Regions from separate parts of the Homo sapiens genome. Here region 2 is linked to region 1. A link means that fine-mapping ties the variant in region 1 to the expression of a gene that starts in the linked region. Tissue or cell type: esophagus mucosa. Region 1 holds a variant in brackets; the other region holds the start of a gene. All regions are shown on one strand. Distances are from middle to middle.

What was found. PIP is the estimated chance that this variant, and not a neighbour inherited with it, causes the effect.
Region 2: it holds the start of HS1BP3, and the variant in region 1 is fine-mapped to the expression of HS1BP3 in esophagus mucosa (GTEx, PIP 0.92).

The regions. Positions count from the first base shown.
Region 1 is chr2:20,618,104-20,629,176 of GRCh38, forward strand. HS1BP3 (HCLS1 binding protein 3) reads right to left here. Exons shown (of 7, transcript NM_022460.4): 5 at 6,629-6,789; 6 at 5,793-5,928; 7 at 1-1,142. The coding sequence ends at 884. Among named protein-coding and RNA genes, the nearest start is that of HS1BP3, 27 kb to the right of the region's middle. RefSeq lists an enhancer at 1-105. The variant G/C (reference allele first, on the strand shown) is at 4,623.
Region 2 is chr2:20,646,155-20,656,410 of GRCh38, forward strand. It overlaps HS1BP3 (HCLS1 binding protein 3), which reads right to left and starts at 4,944. Exons shown (of 7, transcript NM_022460.4): 1 at 4,878-4,944. The coding sequence starts at 4,909. LOC105373466 (a long non-coding RNA gene) reads left to right here and starts at 5,128. Exons shown (of 2, transcript XR_001739320.2): 1 at 5,128-5,198; 2 at 5,821-6,046. RefSeq lists enhancers at 4,291-4,370, 4,391-4,540, 4,625-5,362 and a silencer at 4,621-5,210.

The DNA.
Region 1 (11,073 bases):
CAGGCTGAGCTGTGGGGAAAGCTATGACCCAGTTTGCTGAGAGCTGCAATGACGAACATTGGCTCTGTGCCCAGAGGCCCAAGAAGGCCATGGACTGGGCTGGCCTTTCCTGGGAAAGGGGGAAGGAGGAAGAACTGGGGCCTAGCAGGGCCGTCTATACCCTGGAGAGGCAGGGCCTGACTTCTCCCTTTAGAGCTTGCATCAAGAGGAGGCTCAGGAGAGAGAGACTTGCATCAGAACACTCCAGACAGCCGATCTCCCACTCAGTATTCCTCTCCTGGGAGACCCACCCAGACCCTGCAGGCCCCTGGCAGCCACGAGGAGCAGAGGCCCTGGAGTAATTTGGCTTGGGGACGTCCCCACCCCAGGCCCAGGCCAGTCAGTCACCCAGGCTACAGCTTAGGGTAGGGGAAGGGGAGGATACCGGTCACTCCTTCTTACTATGCGAACAGAGGCAGAGGAGGGATAGAGGCCCAGCCCCAGTTTGGGTCTGTGCTGGGGCTGGCAGAACCCGTGGGCATGAAGCTTCCCTGCCCCATGTGACACCTCGCTACGGCCCCACATGTCTTGCTTCATCCTTGGGGCTGGGCTTCTGGTTGGCAAGGCATCCCCACACCCTCCCTCCCCTTCATGTCCACGGGGAATAAGACACATTGGGCTCTGGCTCCTAGGGTGAGAGCCGCTCCCGCAGCCCGCAGGCTTCTACTTTGGCCCCACAGCCCCGGAGAAAATGGAACCATGCAGTTCTGGGTGCTGTGACCCAGGCTTCTGCCTGGCCTCCCCTGGGGGTGGGGAGGTTCTGACCCTGCAGGGCCCAGTCCCTTCCCTTCACACCGATGTCCCCACAGACAGGCCTGCTGGGCCAGGGGCCAGCATGGAAGGGTCAGAAGAGGCTGGGGGCGGCCTGGGCTGGTGTATCGTGGTCCTGGATGTACTGCAAGATGTCCATCTCGTCCATGGCTTGGATCTGCTCCTGCGGCTTCTGCTGCCCAGCCACAGCTTCAGCCGGGCCCGCTTTGGGGGGAACAGCTGGTTTTCTGGGTATCACCGGCTTAGCTGCCACTGGTGGCTTGGGCTTAAGCTGGGGCTTGGGTTTGGGCTCAGCTCCCAGGTTCAGAATCTGGTCCAAGTCCTCTTCAACTCTAGGGAACCACAGGGAGGAACCCTGAGCATAACACTGCCACCCCGTGACAGGAACAAGACCCCAGGCAATGCCAGTGCCCACACGGGGCTGGGCAGCGGCAGGGAGCCCAGCCTCGGCCAGGTCAAGGCCCCGCCCTGCTCTGCCCCATTCCACTCTGGCCCCTCCACCCATCCTGCCCAGAGGAGACACGAAGGCCAGGGCTCTCCTTCCCTCCCACCCACAGCAAAGCAGGCACAGGGCAGGCCCCACGCAGCCTCCTGAGAGTTGCTCTTCAGGTGACCCCACTTGACACACGCTGCCTTCTGTAGGGGGCTTTCCCTCCAATCCCTTCAGAAATAACCACCAGCTACTATGTACAGAGTTCCCGCTCTGTACAGCACTTCAGACACGTTATCATATCTTATCCTCAAAACGCCACTCTGGGGAGGCATGACTGTGCTTCCATCACGCAGATGAGGACGCTGGAGTCCCAGGAGGCCGAGTGACCTCGAGGGGATGGTATGTGACAGTGCCTTTGTTGGAAGGAACAGGACATCGGCCCTTAGAAGCTGAGCCCTCATCCAAAGCAAGTTCAGCCAGAGAAAGAATAACCAGGGGCGCTGAGCCATGGTGGTACAGGCTTGGCCCGCCCACAGTGCCCCGCTGTGGGCCACACGGGTGCCAGACGGAACCCAGTGAGAGCTGAGGATGGCCTCGGCCAGGGCCCACCAAGACTCTGTCATGACCCCAGACCTCTAATCTCCCACTGGTGGGTGGGCAAAAAGCCCTGGCAGTGTTACGGTCACTCAGGACCATCCCTGGGTACTGAGGGCAAGAAACAGGCCAGGCCACTGATTCTCCAGAACTTGATTTCTGGAGACCAGATGCACAGTGGAAGACTCATTCAATCCATTCCACCCACTCAGCTCTGTGCTGAACACCCGTGATGGCCAGACATTTCCACATTCATTAACCCATTCAATAATCTCCAAACACTGTGTGGTCGCAGAGATTAGCCCCGTTTTACAGCTGAGAATACTGAGGTGCAGAGAGGCAAAGGGCCTTGCCCTGAGACCCACAGCTAGTGTGAGGATGAACAGGACTTGGCCTGCATGTGGCTGGTTCTCTGGGGTGTGTTCCCCTGGCTGGGGCACCTAGACTCCAGTGTCACGGCGAGGTTTTCCCTTGTGCTAACGGGCATCTCTACGTCTATCGCTCAGCCATGCTGGAATCAGGTGAGTGAAGGCAGAAGACCTGTAGCACCCACTTGGTCTCTACAAGCTTCGGCTTCCTCATCTACAAGCAGGAGTAACAGTGTCACTGGCACTGCTGCACGGAACTGTACACAGAAGCACAGCACTGCAGGAGGAGAACTGGCTTCCGTTCCTCACCCTGCAACTCCTCCATCAGGCAGCCTCAGGCCACTCCTCCTCCCTGGTCCTCAGTCTCTTCTATAAAGTGGGATTGTACTTGCTCTACCATCCTCACAGGGATTCTTACAAGGATCAAATAAGACAACACAAGGAAAGTAGTTTCCAAATGTACAGGAAGGCTGTATGTACTGATGTCTACTGACAGCCACAGGGGCTGAGCAAGTGGGCATAAGACACAGAAAAGCAGTGCCTCCACCTACAATGAGGGACACCCCCCAGCCCAGTCAGACAGGGGCCACATAATTGCAAAGGCCTGGAAAGAAGGTGTTGAAGTCCAGAGAAGGGAGTGAGCCCTTGGGCCAGAGCAGGCTGGGAAGGCCTCCTGGGAAGGTGGGTCTTTTCAGAAGGGTGAGCCTGGCATGAATAGGGGAGAGAATTCTGAAGAAGGGAGCAGACAGCAGAGGTCTGGAGGTGGGAATGAGAATGAACAGGAAGAACCAGGCAGGCTCATGAGCAGCGGCTTCTTGCCCTGGGGCAGGGCCGGGCAGGGGTGGGGATAGAGAGGCGATACCTCTGATCAGGACAACTCCTGGCACTACCAGAGAGCCTGTGTGAGTATGGAGGTGTCCAGCACAGCACCCCCAGGGGTGGATGCCTGCCTGGAGCCAGCTGTGGAAGGAGCTCCGGACACCCTGCCTGCTTCCTGGCTCAACCTCCTGTGATGGGGCACAAACCCCAGAGAGAGAATTCAGAGTCTGTTTGGATGGCAGAGAAATGAATAAAAGGTGTCCTTCTTGAACAAACCCAGAGGGACTGGCCCAAGCCGGGCCTTCATAGACAGACCAGCTGTCTTGGGGTAGAGGTGATTTCAGGAGGTGTCACTCATGGCCAGTCTGCTCCTGGCCACCTCAGGTCAGATGTTCCGGAGCTCCCTCCAAGTGGCAGCCCTTCCTTGACTCCCCCAGGGCAGGTGCCAGCTCCACTGGCATGATGCAGCCTCCATTGAAGGCTGAGGGTACCTGGGAAAAGCTCAAAGGGACTGAATTATCCTCAAATAGGGGCCCTTTGGAAAATAAAGCAGCCGCTAGAGGCTTATGTCAGATTTCAGGATTAGCCTGCTTGGCAAAGCAGTGACTCTTTGGAACTAATCAGCAGCTGGATTTGCTCCCAGGTGGGTGGTGTACACGGGTGGTCAGCCACGGTGGGAGGCAGCATAGCTGCTCTTGGGACACAGGAGGCTGCAAGGCACCCCTTTTCCAAGCACCCTATTTCTGAGTCATGACTAGGACTAGCTCTCACTAGCGCAAGGTCCAGCTCTTTTCTCCTCCAGGCCCAGCTGGTGTGAGGTCAACCAGTGGGGGGTAAGGGAGCTCTAAGACCCTGGCCCCATTCCTTCTCCCTGGGTTCCTGCGGAAGACAAGACTCACCTAAACATCTAGACTAGAGGCCCTGCCCTGGTGTGGCTGCACAGCCAGAAGGAACAAAGCCTTCTTAGCCTCGACCCGCTCAGTGTACACCCCACGCGGCCTCAGGGTGGCTGAGGCTAGTGACAGAATGAACGAAGGGGTGAAAGCATGAATGAATGAATGGCTATCAGAACATTCTTTATTATGAGGAAGTCCAACTACTCCCTGGATAGTCACAGGGCAGACACAAAGAATGAATGTGGTTCCTGCTCTCAAGAAGCTAATCCCAGTGTTACGGCTCTTTTTGAATTTGTCTGAATTTAAAAAAAAGAAAAGCAGTTAATCCTTTCATTAGCAGATGTCTGCTAAAGTGAAGGTGGGGGTGCGGGACCCACACTTTTTGAGCAGGGACTCCCCAAGCGCTCTGCGGGATGCTAAGGGGCACCACAGAGTGGGGGGCCCAGGGATGAATGAGAACGTGAAGTGCCATGTGGTGCTGGCCCGCGCACTACGAGCCCTGCTTTTTGTGGCATTTCCCCAATTCATCAGCCACAGAGCCCCTTTGAAGATAGCCTTTGACCACCCCACTGTACCACGTTCTGCAGAACACAGGTTGGGAAGTAACGGATTTAGAATAAACTAGGCCAGAAAGGTCCCACGAGAGCCACCCCACTGGGACACATGGACTCCTAGACATGCTCGGCCTGGCCCTGCTGCTCC[G/C]CAGGCAGACTCTAGTATTTCATTTCCCTGTGCCTCGGTTTCCCTCTAATAAAATAACAATCCTGGTTTCTTCCAGCCCGCTGGGATGTCAGGAGCGAGGACACAGGATGAGAGTGAACAGATGCCAGGGGCCTTGGGGACATGTAAATACCAGAAGCCGTCACGGTGACTCAGGCTTGGCGGGCACTTGCAGGGCTGTCTAATAGCCCGAGGCTGCTAATGAGGGGTACAGATGACAGCCTCCAGGGCCTGCATGCCTTGGTGTCACATAAGCCGTTCCTGGAAAGAGGCGGCCTGGCTTCCTCTGAATCCCAGGCACAGTCCTGTGTCCTGGAGCATGGAGTGGGAGCTGGAGACACGCACAACACTGAGTCTGCTGAGAATGTGGCCAGTGGAGGTAAAGGCCTGGGGAGAACTGGGGGGCTGGGTGGGGAGGCAGATCACCCAGCCAAGTGCTCAGACAGTCCCTGATGAAGTGGAGAGGCCAGGCCAGGGGCAGAGCAGGGGTCTTAGCCAGGTGGCGTCCCACACTTGATTTCTTATAATATGGAGAAAATAGCATCCACCTTAGGGGGCTGTCGTGAAGATTACATAAGAGAGCGTGTAAGGAGTCTGGCTTACTGCGTACACAGCAAGGACTCAGGAAATAGGAGCTGTCACCGGCACAGGTTCTGCCAATTGACCTCCATGTGACAGCTGAGGCCTCATTCTCCCTTCCTTCTGTGAAAGCTGCCGACCGGGCCCTCCGGCAGAGAGGCCATCACCAAGACATCTGCACTTTGCCCCCTCGCTGGGTGGGCTGCATGCTGCCATGAGTCCGTTTAATTTGTTCCCAAACTTGCTTATGCCAGTTATACCTGCTCTTGCAATTATATAATTTAATTATTCTTTACATAAACTGTTAAAATATGATTGTGAAAAGAAAGACTGGTTGTGCACACAAAGTTCTCTCTTTCTGGAACTAGCTGAGCAGCCCTGGGCTGCGGATCCTCCCCCTCAGCCCCCTTCACCGCCTCTCACCCAATGTGCACCCACAGGCTTCTACTTTTCACAGGCCTGGGGTCCTCCCCTCAGAGGAGGCTGGGGCTGAGACTGGGCAATGAGCCGGGCCCTTGGCTCTGTCCAGAACACTCTCAGAGCTGGCCAAGCGCCGCTGGGGACAGGTGGTACCTGAACAGTTCCTTGGAGGCGTCCCTGTGGCTGAGGCTGGGTGTGGGCCCTCCACTCTCACAGGCGGCTGGCAGCAGGAGGGAGTCACCCAGGGGGATGGCCCCGCCGAGGTCAGGATCATCAAATAGCTTCAGGGCTGTGGGAAGGCAGCAGCAGGGGGGTCAGAGGAAGCCTCTAGGCTGGGATGCCATGGCTGCTCTCTCTCTGCCCCACCCCAGGAAGTCTTCTGGGCAGTCCTACAGGAATTGATGCCTCTGCTCAACCTGTCATAACTGGTGCTGCTTTGTAACTGTCAGGCAATGACCTGTCTCCCCAGGGGCCCCCGGGGCCCTCGGGATAGGGACTAGGGACAGGGACTAGGTCTCACTCCTCAGCATGTTCTTGGGCCTGGCCCTCAGTGAGGGCTCACCAAGTATGGGCTGAATTAGTGGGTGGCATCAATTCCCCTCACCGGAGGACGACCTGGGCATGTGAGGAAAGGGACCAAGGGATGAGTGGAGATGTCCCAAGGCCGCTCGGTTTTCCCTCTGCCAACTCTGCACAGAGCCCTCCAGCAGAGTCCATGCAGGCGACACAGAGTCCCATTAAATCCAAACCTACAGTCACACATGTGCCCTAGGCAGGCCCTATCGCTTACCACACAAACAGTGCCTGGAAGCCCAGGGCCCACATCTGCCCACAGATGTCATGGAAGCACAAAGCTGAGTCTATATCACATCTAAACAGGACAGGGGAGATATATGGGTCCTATTCACGCCGGGTGAGTCCAGACCCTGCCTGGTGATGGGGCTGGGCACCGAGAGGACACCAGGAGCAGACCATGGGGCTCTACTTACGGTCCACGGATGACACGTCCTCCGAGGGGTCCTGTGGAGACAGCTTCCTGCCCGGGCCAAAGAGCCCCTCATCAGGGTCCACCTCCTCGTCAAAGATGGTGAGCCGGGGCGAGGGCTTGGCTTTCACGGCCACTTTGGGATGTTTCTTGGGCTTCTTGGAGCTGGAGAATCACAGACAAAGCACAAGGTGAGGATTTCCCACAAGTGTCCAGGTGGTCCGGTCAGACCGACACAGGCGCTGGGCCCTGCAGTGGAGGGGCTGGATGCCATGGGCCAGAAAAGACCAGGCCAGAGGGACCAGGGAAGTCCTGGAGGGGGCCACCCAGAGCAGTCCAGGCAGGTGGAGCTGAAGTCTTTCTGAAATCTCTAACAGATGGTCACACGGCCAAGGGAAGGACAGGTCCTCCATCCCAGGGGAGAAAAGCAGGCCAGCGAAGGTGGTTGAGAAGCAGGTTTCCCCAATGACAGAGTGGTAAGGCCCCCGCTACTGTGGGCAGCTGTGCCCTGTGTTCAAGAAATGACCACTGTCAGGAGGAGCAGGCGGCTGCCAGGACCGGGCACCAGCTGCCAGACAACCCCAGCTCTTAGACGCCTTCAGGCCTTGAGTCTGCCATGCGGTCACAGGCCAGAGATCACACTCCCATTCGGAAGGTAGAGACAGCTGCCTGGTCTCAGGGTCTCAGCACTTGGGGGCCAGGCTCAGAGAACCACACTCCACAGCCACTCAGAAATGGGGATGGACCTGGTCTTGAGCCACAAACCTCAGGGCTAGGACTCAGGAGGGCAGAAAGCAGCTTTGGTAAGTGCCTTATTGTTTCCTTTGCATGGTAAAACCACCATTGTTCTAGTTAACACTTGGGTTCTGTGGAGCAGCCCCCCTCTTTCAGGAAGCCTCTCTGGGACTTGCCCACCTCCCCGGCTCCGACTCTGCCACCCCAGGTCCCATTACAGTGCACTTGCCGACTGGCTGAGGAGGTCCTGCTCTGGGCCAGACCCTGCTGTAAGAAACCAGGACGGGGCAGGATGGAAGCTTCTGGGGTGTAGGAGTACTTTAGTTTTGATCCAGGCGGTAGTTACGGGCTGGATAAGTAAACACGCATGGAGCTGAATGCTCAGGATCTGTGTACGTCACTGTAAGTGATACCGCCAGTAAGTAAACACACTTGATTTTACTTTAATAATTACTTTAACAGGCATTCAATCCCTGCTGATGATGTCTATTAGCCATTTTAAGGTTCCTGAAAATAATGAGAATATGCTCTTTACTGGAAACTGAAATTCCGTGTGCCTGTCCGCCTGGCGGGCAGTTCCACTGGACTGAGGTCACTATGTGAGGTCACCATCTGAGCTCATGTTGGTAACACGCTGCGGCAAAACTGCACCGAGAGGCTGGCCTACACAATGATACAGATTAACCAATGGCAGATAAAAATAGCAGAATGGCCCTGGGTGCTGGAGGGGCAGGTCCCCGCAAGGTGACCATTCCCACAGTCTGGAGTCTGAGGTCTGGCAGAATCCCAGGCACCCAGCCGAGGCGAGGAGAAACTATGAAAGCCAGGAAGGCTCCCTGCTGGAAGGTTCCCTGCTGGAAGGCTGCAGGACAGAGCATCCTCTGAGCTCAGAGCCCAGTCCCAGGGGAAGGATCTCTGCAGGGCTCGTTTGTTGGATGAGGAAACAGTGGTCCAGAGAAGCTGAGTGTCTGCCCAAGGCCACACAGCAGGGAAGGGACAGGCAGGCTGGGTCTAGATTGAGGATGGTCATACTCATGGTCCTATCCTCTTGTCCCCTCCAAATGTCCCATGAGGAAGGTGATATAGGATGGCGCAGGGATAACAGGATTGATCCTGCTGTTCTCTGGGGAGAAAGTGGCATGTTTCAAGGGTAGTGATGGGGAGCAGAGACGCAGTGGCAGGGACTGCTCCAAGAAGGCCCATCTGCCTGGTCCTGTGCTTTCTCCACCCAGCTCAGGCCATGAGGGACCTCCTCTGCTGTGCACCACCCTCAGGCCCTGCTTGTGGTGCTGGAGGTGAGGTGGAGGGAGCCTCGATTCTCCACCCTAAGGGCAAGTGCTTTCCAGAAATCTTCAGCTTCTGCTCCTCTGAGACCTGGAGGAGCCAGGGCTCGCCTGCTCTTACTCAGACATTCTCCCCTTTATTCTTACCAATCAGGCAGAGCCAGCTCGGCTCTCATGACTCCTAGGAAGTGGGTACCAAACAAGGGCCATGGCCTCCTGGGGCAGACAGCAAAGCTGACCCCAGCCAAGACCCACTGAGTCGGAAACCCCAAGCAGGCCCAGGAGGCTGTGTTCAGTCTCCTGTGGAATTCCACGGTCAGCCAGGCTCGCAGCCACTGTTCTGCCCGATGCTTCTCTCCCCTTCATTCCCCATCTCTGCCGCCCTTTGCGTGGCCCTTGCTCCTGGCCCCAGCAGGCACTGCGGTGGGGAAGGGTGGAGAGCCACCCCGGCCCCTACCCAGGTGGCAGCTCTCAGGGAGGGCAGGTCTGAGGCTGCTCTGCAGCCTCCCCCAGCAGCAGCTCCATGCCACACCCCACACTGTCTGCTCAGAAACAAGCAGGCCCTCCCTGGCTCCTGGGGATTGAACTTGCATGTAACCAGCCACGGGCCCCTCGGGGCAGGGGAGCAAGAGGCTTTGCATTGACCAGAAATCAGAGGGCGCAGAGAGGGAAGCGAGCCATCTGAGGAACAAGGGAAGCGAGAGAGAACAGGCGCGAGGAGGTCTCTCTGGAGAAGCCGTGGTGCCCCTTCCTACGCCTGCACCTGGTCTGGACAGCACACAAGAGGCCTAACTTTCCTTCCATGTGAGTTTTCTCCTCCAACTGGATCATGTCCTTGTTTTTCTCCCTAGAGACATGTTTGCCCTTTTGTTGTCCTGAACTGAAATAAAGTGGATCTACAGCACACGCGGGCGGCTCCAGCAGGCATGGTCTGTACCCTACCCCCACCCACCCATGCTGCCTGGGCTGCCTTCTCTACCTCCCCAACTCTCTAGACCCATCTTCAGGGGAATCAAGGAAGAAGCAGGAAATATGGAGTTTTGGTGCCTAAAAGCCCCAGGGTCCTATCCTGAGCGGCCCAAAACTTTCAGCCTCTGGGGGCTTAGTAATGTGCCTGGTCCATAACAGATGCCTTGATAAACTCTGGATGAGAGGATGCGCGATGGATGGAGGGGAGGAGGGATGGACAGGTGGAGGACAGGTAGGCAGGGAGCAGGGTGCCAGCACATCTCCATCTCAGGATTCTGTTAATCCCCAAGGCGGGAGGGGCAGGGAGGGAAGAGGGATAGGCTCCCAACCCCAGTCTCAGACAGCGCCCTATGTGCGAAAGCCCCTCCTCCGAAGATCTCCTGGCCGACTCCACTGGGCTTGCCACCAGGCCCTCAGCCACTCTATGAGCAACTCATTCCTTCCCTCGTGGGCACCTTTGATGGCGAGCACTCACTGAGAACCTCCCACCTGCAAGAACCTGTGCTGGGGACGAGGGAACAAAGATGAGGACGAGCCGCCGCTGTCCCCAGAAGCTCATGGCAGAGCAGGGTCACATAGAAACTGATCATTATGGCCGAGTGAGGTGGCTTATGCCTGTAATCCCAGCACTTTCGGAGGCTGAGGTGGGTGAATTTAAGAATAAAATATGAAAAGTGCTTTAGTTTAAAGCAAAAAGTTTACGGGAGGCCAGGAGTTTGAGACCAGCCTGGCAAAGATGATGAAATCCCATCTCTACTAAAAATACAAAAATTAGCGTAGCATGGTGGTGCATGCCTGTAATCCCAGCTACTCGGGAGGCTGAGGCATAAGAATCGCTTGAACCCCAGGGATGTAGGTTGCAGTGAGCTCACATCACACCACTGCACTCCAGCCTGGGTGACAAAGTGAGACTTTGTCTCAAAAAAAAAAAAAGGAAACTGTTCATTAGCACACAGGGTGTTCCGCTCTGTCACGGCAGAGCACAGAGGACAGAGCCAACCAAGCCTGAGGGCTCAGGGAGGACTTCTTGGAGGAGGTGATGTGGAGACAGGAAGTGAACTTGGTGGAATGGAGTTAAATAGCATCTTGGGTACAGGACCTGAGAGTCACACTGTGAGGGTCTGCAGCGGGCGTGACTAGGACATAACTGGGAACCCAGATTCCTCTTGGTGAAAGGGGACCCCTTAGGTTTGCAGCAGACGTAGTGCCATGAGGGAACAGGCTGAGAGTCAGTTCTTTCCAGGGAAGCTTTGCTCATGGTCCATAGAAGAAATGACCAGAGCCTGGACTAGGAGAGCAGCGGTGGTGCGAGGGGAAGACAGGCTAGGGGGAACTTCAGAAGGCAAACGTGCTTATACATCTGGACAGTTAAGGTGATCGGCTGACAGAAGGGAATTGTCTAAGGTGATGACAGGTTTCTGATCTCAGTGAGGGGGTCAGTAATTCCATGACAGGTGCGTCA
Region 2 (10,256 bases), 28 kb after region 1:
AGTGATGAGATGTTTTTCTTGAAGTGGAAAAAGTTATTAAATACATCCCTCATCCTACATAAGGTGAGACACAGACCTGTGCAGACTAACATCCCTCACGCAAACACCTCTGGCAGGACACGTGGGGCACCCTCTGAGCAGCTCTGACCATCGAGGTGAGACCTCCTGTGTGCTGGGCAGGACCCTGAAAACACGGGAGGAGCTTCTGGAGCTTAACCTGTGTCTGGGGCAAGGCCCTTCCCTCTCTGGAATTATACCCCAATCCATCAAATCCCCCTGCCCCAGCACTCCTCCCACACGGACCCCTCACATCCCACGCTAGGCCACGCTGTCACCAGCACAACGCTGCTGTCACCAACTGGTGAGGCCTACAGTGATGCGTCTCCTATGCCATGTATGACACCCAATGACTGAGTGCTGTACACACAAGGAATATCCTCCCGCGGCGTAGGGCACCCCAGGCAACCTGCCTTCAGGTGGTGAAAAGTGCAGCAAGGGCCGAATGGGCACTGGGAGGTGCACACGCACAGCCAGCCCTCTGCCAACGGCACCGAGTTCACGCAGTGTGCACGCGCGGCCTGGTGTCACCCACGGTGTCACTGCCACCAGTGTGGAGGAGGAAGGTGAGGCTGGATGCTGAGGGGAGACGCGCTGGGCTCTAGGGATGCACCTGTGTGAAGTCACTTCCGCCTCCTGCAACCCTGCGAAGGAGCTCTGCTACCCAGACCCACTTAAAATACAGGGAAACAGACCCCTAAAGGGAAAGTGCCTGCCCAGGTCTCACCCGGCATGAGGTGGAGCTGCGTTCAATCCCAGGCAGCTGCTCCAGAGCCCAGGTGGCCTCTTATGGGGCAGGCATGAGAAAGAAGCCAGGCATCATTTCTTTAGGATCATGATGAAAACGAGGCACAGGGGGGTGAAAGTGACAAGAAGGGCAGTGCCTGAGCTGCGGGGAGGTCCTCTCAGGGGTGGGAAAGGGATGGAGCAGACCCAGATGGGCACCTCCCACGATCCAGCTCCCTCACAGCACCCCACATCCAATGGTTCTCTGACCACGCCAGAACCCACAATCCATAACCCCACCCCTTTTCCAGGGTCCCATTCCATTGCTGGAATCCCTCTGCCTTAGGCCCAGCTCCCCTGACTTCTTACCCAGAGCTGAGCTGGCCTGGTCAAAGCCCACTTCTCCAGTTCTCTGCTTCCTTCACCCTGTGCCCAAGTGGCTCAACGTGACTGGGGACAGACATGGTGTAAACATGCAGCCTGGTCCCATTGAAATTCATGGCTGCAGACTTGAAGGCACAGCACCACACCAGGCTTGGCAACCCTACCTTGCCCTAGATGTGGGGTTCTCAAAGTGTGGTCCCTGGATCAGGATCAGCATCGCCTGGGAACTTGTAAGAAAGGCATGTTCGGGCCTAGGGTGGCCAGCCATCTTGTTTTCTTAGTAAGCCCTCCGACGAGTCTGATGCACCTGGGCCTACTCCATCACCCTCCCACTTCCCTGAACCCATAGGAAAACTTTCTCTACAGGGTCAGATAGCAAATATTTCAGGCTGTGTAGGGTATCTGGTCTCTGCTGCAGCTGCTACGGAGAGTACATAAACAAATGGGGGTGTGGTGGGCAGGATGTGCCCTAGACCAAGCTTCTCCAACTGTAATGTGCGTGCAACCCCCTGGGGATCCTGTTAATATGCAGATTCTGGTTCTGCAGGCCCCGGGGTGTGCCCTCACCATCTCTAGCAAATTCCCAAGTGATGTGGACACTGCTGTGTACTGCTCCAGAGACCATCGGAGAACATCCTAGGCTTCGCTGTCACATCTGCCCATCAGCCTGCAGCTGCTCCCTGATAGCTGCCCTCTCCTGGGACTGTAGACAAACTGGCTGGCTGCTCCTAAGGCCAACCTTCTACCAGGGCAGCGGCTCCGAGGCCCTCCCACCTACTGAAGGACATAGCTGCTGCAGCTCACCCCTCTTTTTCGCACCATCGATTTTCCTTCCTTACTGGCCCACGCTTATTAGCATGCAACCATGCTCTGACCACTCATGTAACAAAAGCTGTGCTTTGACCCGACATTCCCCTTGCTCCGTTTCCCTCCTGCCCTTTCCAGCAGAACTCCTCAACAGAGGGCCCCATATTCATGGGTTCCTCTCCTCCTGTTTGATCTTGAACCCTTTCCAGCCAGACTTTGGTCCTCATCATGCAACAAACTGCCCACGCCCAGGTCATCTGCGACCTCCATGTGGTTAAATCCAAAGGTGAATCCTCATTTCTCCTCTGGTCTGACTTGTCAGCAGCAGTGGGCACAGTCAGCCACTCCCCTCCTTCAAGCTCTGCCTTCACTGGTGGCTGGAGCACCCCCTCACTCTTGGTTCTTCTCTGCCCACCCTGGCCACTCTTGCTCAAACAGGAGGAGAGGAACTGCTTTGGATGGTTCCCCTTGATAGCATCCAGAGCACCCTCCTTCTTCCTCTCACTGTACCCCTCCCCAGGTGATCTCATCCAGGCTCCAGGCTTTAAATACCATTTCCGAGCCAATGGCTCCCCAACTCCCATCTTTAGCTCACTCTCCCCTCACAGCCAGCCTCCTTCCAGCTGCAGCTGCCTGACATCCCCACTGGGCTGTCAACGAGCTTCTCAAAACTCACCTGTCTACACAAATGCTGCTTCTACCTCTCCCCAAGCCTGCTAAAGGGCAGCCTCATTCTTCCAGCAGCTTAGGCTGAGAGACTTGCCGTTAGTCTTAACTTCTCTTCTTGTTCTCACACCCCATATCCAAGCATCAGCAAACCTGAAAGCTCAATCTTCAAAATATATCGAGAACCCAAACATTTCTCACCCTCACGGCCGCCATCACCCCGGGCCAAGCCACCACCGGCTCTACATGGAAACCTACAAGCCTGTCCTGAATGCTCAGCTCGGCCACTGCCCATGCTCAGCATAGCAGCCAAAGGATCTCTATAAACCAGAAGTTGGGCCCTATTGCACTTGAAATTAAATCTGATGGCCCCTCCACAGCCTTCTCGGCCTTTCCTGATCATCCTTCACTCCCAAGCTTGCCTCTTCACCGCATCACCTAACACTCTCCCTGGGCTCACTCCACTCCAGCATACCAGCCTCGGGACCCTGGCTCCTGCTGTCCTGTCCTCCCAGTACACACTTTTCCAAGATTTCTTTTTCATGGCTCTCTCCCTCATGGAGCTTGTCCGGGATCTGTCCAGGCGCCACTCCATCAGAAAGATGCCTCTTTACCACACCATAGAAAACAGCATGCATGCCTCCTACCACTCTGTTGCCCCCACTGTTTTGTTTTCCTTCATAGCATGTATCATCCCTGACATGTCGTAGATTTGCCCACTGGGCCTGTGCCCTCATTAAAGCTCTACGAGAGGGACTTGTTTGTCTCCTAGAACTAGGGCCAGTACCCGGTACAGAGAAGGCTCTCGATAAACACCTTCTGGCTGAATTCAAGCTTGAGTGCATGTGGCAATGACATGTGGGAGGAGATCGGGCTGGAAAGAGGAGCTGGGGTGCGACTGGGAAGGGCCGGCCTTGCTGCTGGGCTAAGGCGTTTGGACTCACCCTGCAGGCAAGATCCTTGGGTGTGCTGGTGCCCTCAGCAAGAAATGAGCCTGACTCATGTGGCCTTACCACCGCCAGCGCCCCCACATCTGTTAACAAGCCACGTCCAGGCTGTGCAGCGGGGCAGGGAGGGAAGCCACCCACCCCATCCCAAGCACCCAGCACCAAAGTCACACCCCATCCATCTGCACATGGCTGAGGGGCATATACTACTGACGTTGCTCATGCCTGCCAATCTGAAACCTCCAATTCACAGAAAAGGAAACTGAGGCTTGGTGAGAGGAGGTGACGTAAGTGGCAGTAGGGAAACCTCTTCTGCCCATGAAGATACAACTGTAACCACACTTGATCATGAAAGACCAAGCAGCCTCCGACATCAGGGTTTACAAAAGGAATCATACCTTTCTAGACCTGAAGTCACGGGGAATTCCTGATTACAACTGGAAGATCAACAGTTGGCTGGGTAACACGTTCATTTATGTCATAAATTGGCATCTTAGCCTAAGACTTTGTGTAGGGAGAGCAAGGGTGAAGTGTATGAAAATATTTGAAGTAAATCACTTTACAGCGTTTTAAAGGCGGAAAGAAGTAAAAGCACGTGCCTCCCAGCCTTGCCAGGATCCACCTTGGGCTGGGTCCTCCAGGTCTCGATCAGGGCCGACCCATTCTGCATCCTCCGCCTGGACCCCTCCAAGGCTTTTGCTGTAACTTGCGCTCTCCTGAGCTGCCTCGCAAGCAGCAACGACCTCTCCCTGGTCTCTCATCAAACTCATCCTCCCAGAAACCGGGTTCCTGCCCTGTACTGTGTTCCCATGGCAACCTGAGCTTACTACCCGCTGCTGGCATCACCCCCTCTCCGCTGCAGCCCCCTGCAGGGCGAGCTTGTCTGATTCGCCTCTGTCCCCAGTGCCCAGCACCGGGCCTGGGACTCAGGGAGCTCTGAAAGGATGGGGAACTAGATTTTCGGGCTCAAAAGAGAAGAACCCAAGGCGGTAGGAAAGGAGAGCAGAGTCCCCACTGCGCCCGCCTGCACTGAACCAGTCAGTCCCAGGGCTCCCGCTGTCCTTGGCTAGTTCTCTACCCTCCAGAGGGCCTCGGTTTCCTCATCTGTAAATCGGGGTCGCCACCTCTCCTGCAGGGCGGTGCAGGGGCCCAGCCCGGATAAGCCACCGAGGGCGCTGGGGAGACCTGCACCAGGTCCCTGGCCTAGGAGGCGGCGGCCTCCCCCCGCCTCTCCGCCCGGGCGCCCCGGACTGCGAGCTGTGCGGTGTGGGGCGCGGGGGTCTGGCTCACCTGGAGGTGACGAGCACCGCCGGGGACTGCATGACGGCGGCGGGGACTCCGGGCGGGGCGCGCAGTCACGGGACCCGGCAGTGCCCGCGTCACCGCGTCCCCGCCCTGCCTCCCGCTGCCCTGGCCTGCCCCCTGGTGGCAGCGGCCGCGCAGTTCGCGCCTGTGGCCAGAGGCGGGGCGGAAGCGCGGCTGGGCGGGTCCCGCACGGTCGCCGTCGGCCTGCGCTGCTCGGAGCTTCCGGAGCACCCAGGCTGAGCCGCGCCCGCCGCAACCACCTAGAAGAAGCCCAGCCTGGCCCTGGCACACGGTGAACCTTAATCGGTGTGTCTGTTTTGCGCTAAAGTTTAGCCGTTAGAGAGACGGGACTCTGCTGTTTCCGCCGCCAGTCCCCATTACAAAACCACTCCCCCTCTGCCCCAAGACCATTTCATTCAACCGATCGGTCAACAAATATTTACCAAGCTGGGGCTCTGTCCAGGCTTCGTGGGGTCTTCTTCAAGCTGCACAGTGAACGCCACGCAGCAGCCCAGTCCCCTTGAGCTTGCTGCCTCCAGCTAGCTCGCCTATCTGGTTCCTACTGCCTGCCCGCTCCATAAATGGCAGGCACTCTCCCGACAGGGGATCTTTAGAGAGGCAGCCTCTGCTGCTTGGCAGAGCCCTGGTGGAGGCCTCCCGGGGCCGGGCCTGCCTGGGATGGCTGCACTTGGGTCCCCAGCTGGAGCAGGGCAACGGGGTCCAGGAGCCAGTTCCCCTCAGAAGGGGAACGTACAGACATGCAGACCCTAACAGACCCACTCATTTTAGATTCACCTCTCCATGGGGTGAGGAACAGAGAGATCGTATCACCTGCCAACGTAGCCCAGGGAAAGAAAAGCTGAGTCTGCAAACAGGGCCAGCAGAAGGTGCAAACTGCTGCCCCTGTTCTGTTACTCCCTCCACCCAGAGCCCCAGTGACAAAAAGAAAGAGAAGCTGGGCTTAACTATACCAGAATTCACGGCAGGGCGATGTCAGCCATGTTTCCTGAGCCTATCAACCACCGCCACCAGCATCACCAACAATATCTACCAGTTTTTACAGATTTTAGTGAAGAAATCCTACAGTAAAAGATTTTGAAAAATGACTTTCCCCAATGTATCTCTTGAATAAATACGGACATTGATATGCCTTATTATTTGTCTCAGATTTGTTTATAGGCAAGATGAGCAATCATGAATGAAGTATGACAATGAATGAAAGTTCTGAGGGAGACCCTTGAAGGCTGCAGTGAAGAGCTGGGATGATGGCGGGAACCCCTGTCTGCTCTGCTGCTCATCGGCCTGTCCGTCTGCAGGGCCGTGTTCATGGCTGCAAATGGTCCTCCGTGTTTTGTTTAAATTGGCATGCCCTACTTTAGAGAAAGGGAGTTCAGGGTCTGGACAGAAAGCAGTATAGGCTTCAGCATTCCAGGAGTCTGAGTGTAGTGCCAGGCAGTCGAGCAGTCACCATTGCACTCACATTTATCCAACAGACAGAAACACAGTGAATAAGACACTTTAGATGCCTTCAGTGGACTTCTTTGCCCTCCTACATGGGGAGTGGGTGGGGGTCTGGAAAGGCTTTCTAAAGGAGCTGAAGTCCAAGGGAAAACCTGAAGAAATATGGATAGAATAGATTAGAAGGAATGTCACGTGCAAAGCCCTAGCGACAGGATAGGAACACCAGGGAACAGGGGGAAGAGGCCAGCAGGAGCCAGGGTGTGGACAGCCTAGTGCACCAAGGCCAGGGCTTTGCCTGATCCTGAGGCCAACACAGCGCCATCAGAGGGTCAGGGACATAGGAGTGGCTGGGCCAGCTAGGGCGTGGGCAGGGTTTTGGAGCATGTTGAAGGTATGAAGATGAGCTGGACTGCAGAACAATCCAGACAAGAGACAATGGTCCCATGAACTAGGGTGATGGCCACCCAGGTGGAGAAGAGGGGACGGGTAAGAGGGCCTTAGGAGAAGGAGTTGGTCAAGACTTGGGAATCCAATGGGTGTGGGCGGGAAGAGATAAGATACCACTATGGTTTGGCTCTTGTGAGTGGCTGGACATTGGTATCATTCTCTGTGGCAGGGCACCTGGAGAAGGAGCATATTTTTGGTAGGATGATGGGTTCTGTTTCAGACAGGCAGTGTTTGAAGGGCTGGACCTATTGATGCGATTGGGTTTATGGCCCTGGGCCTCAGGAAGCCGACCTGGGCTGGAGACTGACATAGGAGTCATGGGTAAAAAGGAGGCTGTTGAGCCTGAGAGTTGGGGTGAGCCCACCAAGGATGGTCTACAATCCAGAGATATGCAGCGGTGTTGGGGGGCTGCAGAGAAGGGGACTCTCCATCATTGTGGGAGCTGGTAGCATGTCTGTCACCAATGCCTTGTAAGCAAATGAGAGGGCCTCACCTGTGCCCCTGGGGTTGTGAAGTGTGCACCTCAGGAAGACTCGGCCCACCTGTCAAGAATGCAACTGGTTTCCCATGAAAGAACGACCCCATTCCCAACAGCAATCCCATTTTCTGCCTCTGTGGGTCCCACGTGCCCCTCTATGGCTCCAGCGCGTAATTGTATACAATGCATGGAATGTGGGATCTAAATCTGATATTTTCTGCTTCCTGTTTAATTCAAGGAGCCCCTTCCATGGCTGAAGCTGCGGTAACACAAACCACATTGCAAAGGATTTTCTATTTCTCTCTTTCTCACTGCCCTGGGAGGAACACTCCAGGCCTCAGTTTCCACCCAGGAAGTCACTGGGCCTCAGGACACTGTGGTCACTGAGAGACACCCGCAGCCTGCAGGGGGTGCTCTGAACTCTGGCTGAGCCATGCACCAACGTTTCCCATGGTGGCTCGGGTCTTCTGGGACCTTATAATTTGTCTCTGTTCCCTAATGTGATACTTTAGAGCTCCAGGGTCTGGGCACATCCACATGGAGCAGGGCCACCACCTTGCTTGTCACTCAGCAAACACTCATAGGTACAGCTCCAGGCCTGTTATCTCCCCAGGCCTGGGGGCTACAGAGCCTTATCCTGTGGGGCTCACAGCCCACTGCAGGGGCTCACAGGCCACTCTAGGACAGCTGGAGATTTCAACAAGGATGCACGCCTAGGGTGCTATGGTGCACAGAGGAGGGCACATAACTAACTCAGCCTAGGGTTGGGCATACAAAGAATTCTGCCAGGAGGAGGTGATGGCAGACCTGGGTTGTAAAAAGTAGGTATTATTTTTTTGAGACTTGATTTTCTCACTGGTGAAATGCACGTAACAGAAACCTTTAAATCATAACATTGCTTGAATTACATGAGGTAAAATGAGACTGAAACAAGATGAAATGTATGGCAGGCATTGGTGATGAGCTAACCGGAAGCCATTCACAACCCCCTTCTTCCTGGTTTTTATTACCATAGAGGCTGGAGAAGTAAAACACATGTCCCATTTCAGTTACAAGGGGCCATGTGACATAACTGACCACATATACTTAAGTCCCTGTGGAGGATTTATCTTGCTAGGAGAAAACTCTTCGCTCCTTCCTTGTCTTCTACCTGGGAAGGGGATACAGTGTTGGAGACACAGCAGCCATCATGGGAGCAGGAGGCACAGACATGAGTTTGGAGTCTACCATGTTAGGGATGAACAAGCCTGGGGAGCTGATGGCATATGAGCTTGCATACACGCCCTGGACTTTTTCTACAAAGTTCTCCTTGCATAAATGCCTAAATCACTCTAAGTGGGGGTTTTCTGCAGTGGATTTCCTGTTGGTGTAGTTGTAAAGTACTTACATAATGCCTGACATAAAAACTGCTCCATAGGGGATGCAGGGATGACTGAGGAGGAGGAAGAAAAGAGGTAAAATGTGTACTAGGAAGGCAGCTTGTCTTTTTTTTTTTTTTTTTTTTTTTTTGAGACAGGGTCTCATTCTGTCGCAGTGGCATGATCACAGCTCACTGTAGCCTCAACCTCCTTGGGCTTAGGTGATCCTCCCACCTCAGCCTCCCAAGTAGCTGGGATCACAGGTGTGTGCCACCATGCCCAGCTAATTTTTGTGTTTTTTGTAGAGACAGGGTTTCCCTATGTTGCCCAGACTGGCCTTGAACTCCTGGGCTCGAGCAATCTGCCCTGCTGAGCCTCCCAAAGTGCTAGGATTACAGGTGTGAGCCACCATGCTCAGCCTAGTACGTCTTGATAGAACCAGAGCGTATCTGAGGAGCTGGTGAGAAGAATATGTGGAAGGATTGCTGGGAGAGGAGGCAGCAGAGGGCAAGAGGAGCCTGTGTTCCCGCAGCATAGAGGGCCTTGTGCGCTATGCAAAGGAGCTCACATCTTATCCTGAAGAAGGAGGGAGTGGGCTCACAGAACAAAGGGAAAAGAGTGTTTCAGGAAGAGACTGGGGTGTGATCAGCAATGCCAAACACTGCTGAACATCCAGGAAGATAAGGAGGTGTTCAAGAAAAACAAACAAAAAAACCCCACAGAACTGAACAGTAGTTAAAGTGGTGAAAGCAGATTTTATTTGGGACTACTGCAATAGGGGTAAGAGACCCCAGTATAGAACTAGGCTAAATTCCGAATGCAGCATGAGAAAGTAGGAATTTATAGCCAAGGAACAGGGTGGGAGTGGTGGCTGGAACATTACTAAGACGAGTATGGGGGGACTCTGGCTATGCCGACCTAACAGGATTCTTGCTGAAGATGGGCCAGGATGGTCAGACATCACCTGGGGATGGTGGAGGAGGGGGAACCCAGTTGGATATCGAGGGTGATCAGATAGGCAGGGTGGGAGGATGTTGGTAACCTGACTTAGCCACGTTCTTCCTAAAACTGGATTTTACAAGGAAGTGCATGCATAGGTCTAAGAGAAGGTTCAGGAGCTCAAAGCTCAGTTTGGTCAAGAAGAGAATCTTTGAAGAGAGAAAAGTGTTCTCTGGCCTCGAGGAGGGCAGTGTCCCAGTGGGTGGAGGAGGGGACAGGAGGTGGGAAGGGGAGAAGGGAGTAGGGCCCCCTCTTCCAGAGGGGGACAAGCAGACAATTTTTGGAACCATTCTGTAGAAATAATTCATGCTCATGGTAGAAAAGCTGGAAAATAGGGATAGTAAAATTAAAAAATAAAAATCGCCTCTCATTCTATACCAGATATAACAATTGTACTAATTTTTTGTTCCTTCTCTCCTGACATTTTTTTCTATGCCTATACATAAGTCTTTTTTTTTAAATAATACAGAATCTTAATAGCTATACTATTTTGTAACTTGCTTTTTCATTTACCATCCTGTAAACATCTTTCCATGTAAAATGACCTCCAAAACCATAATTTTAAATGGCTCCTTAGAATACCATATGCAGATGGAGAATAACTGACTTCTCTGGTCCTTA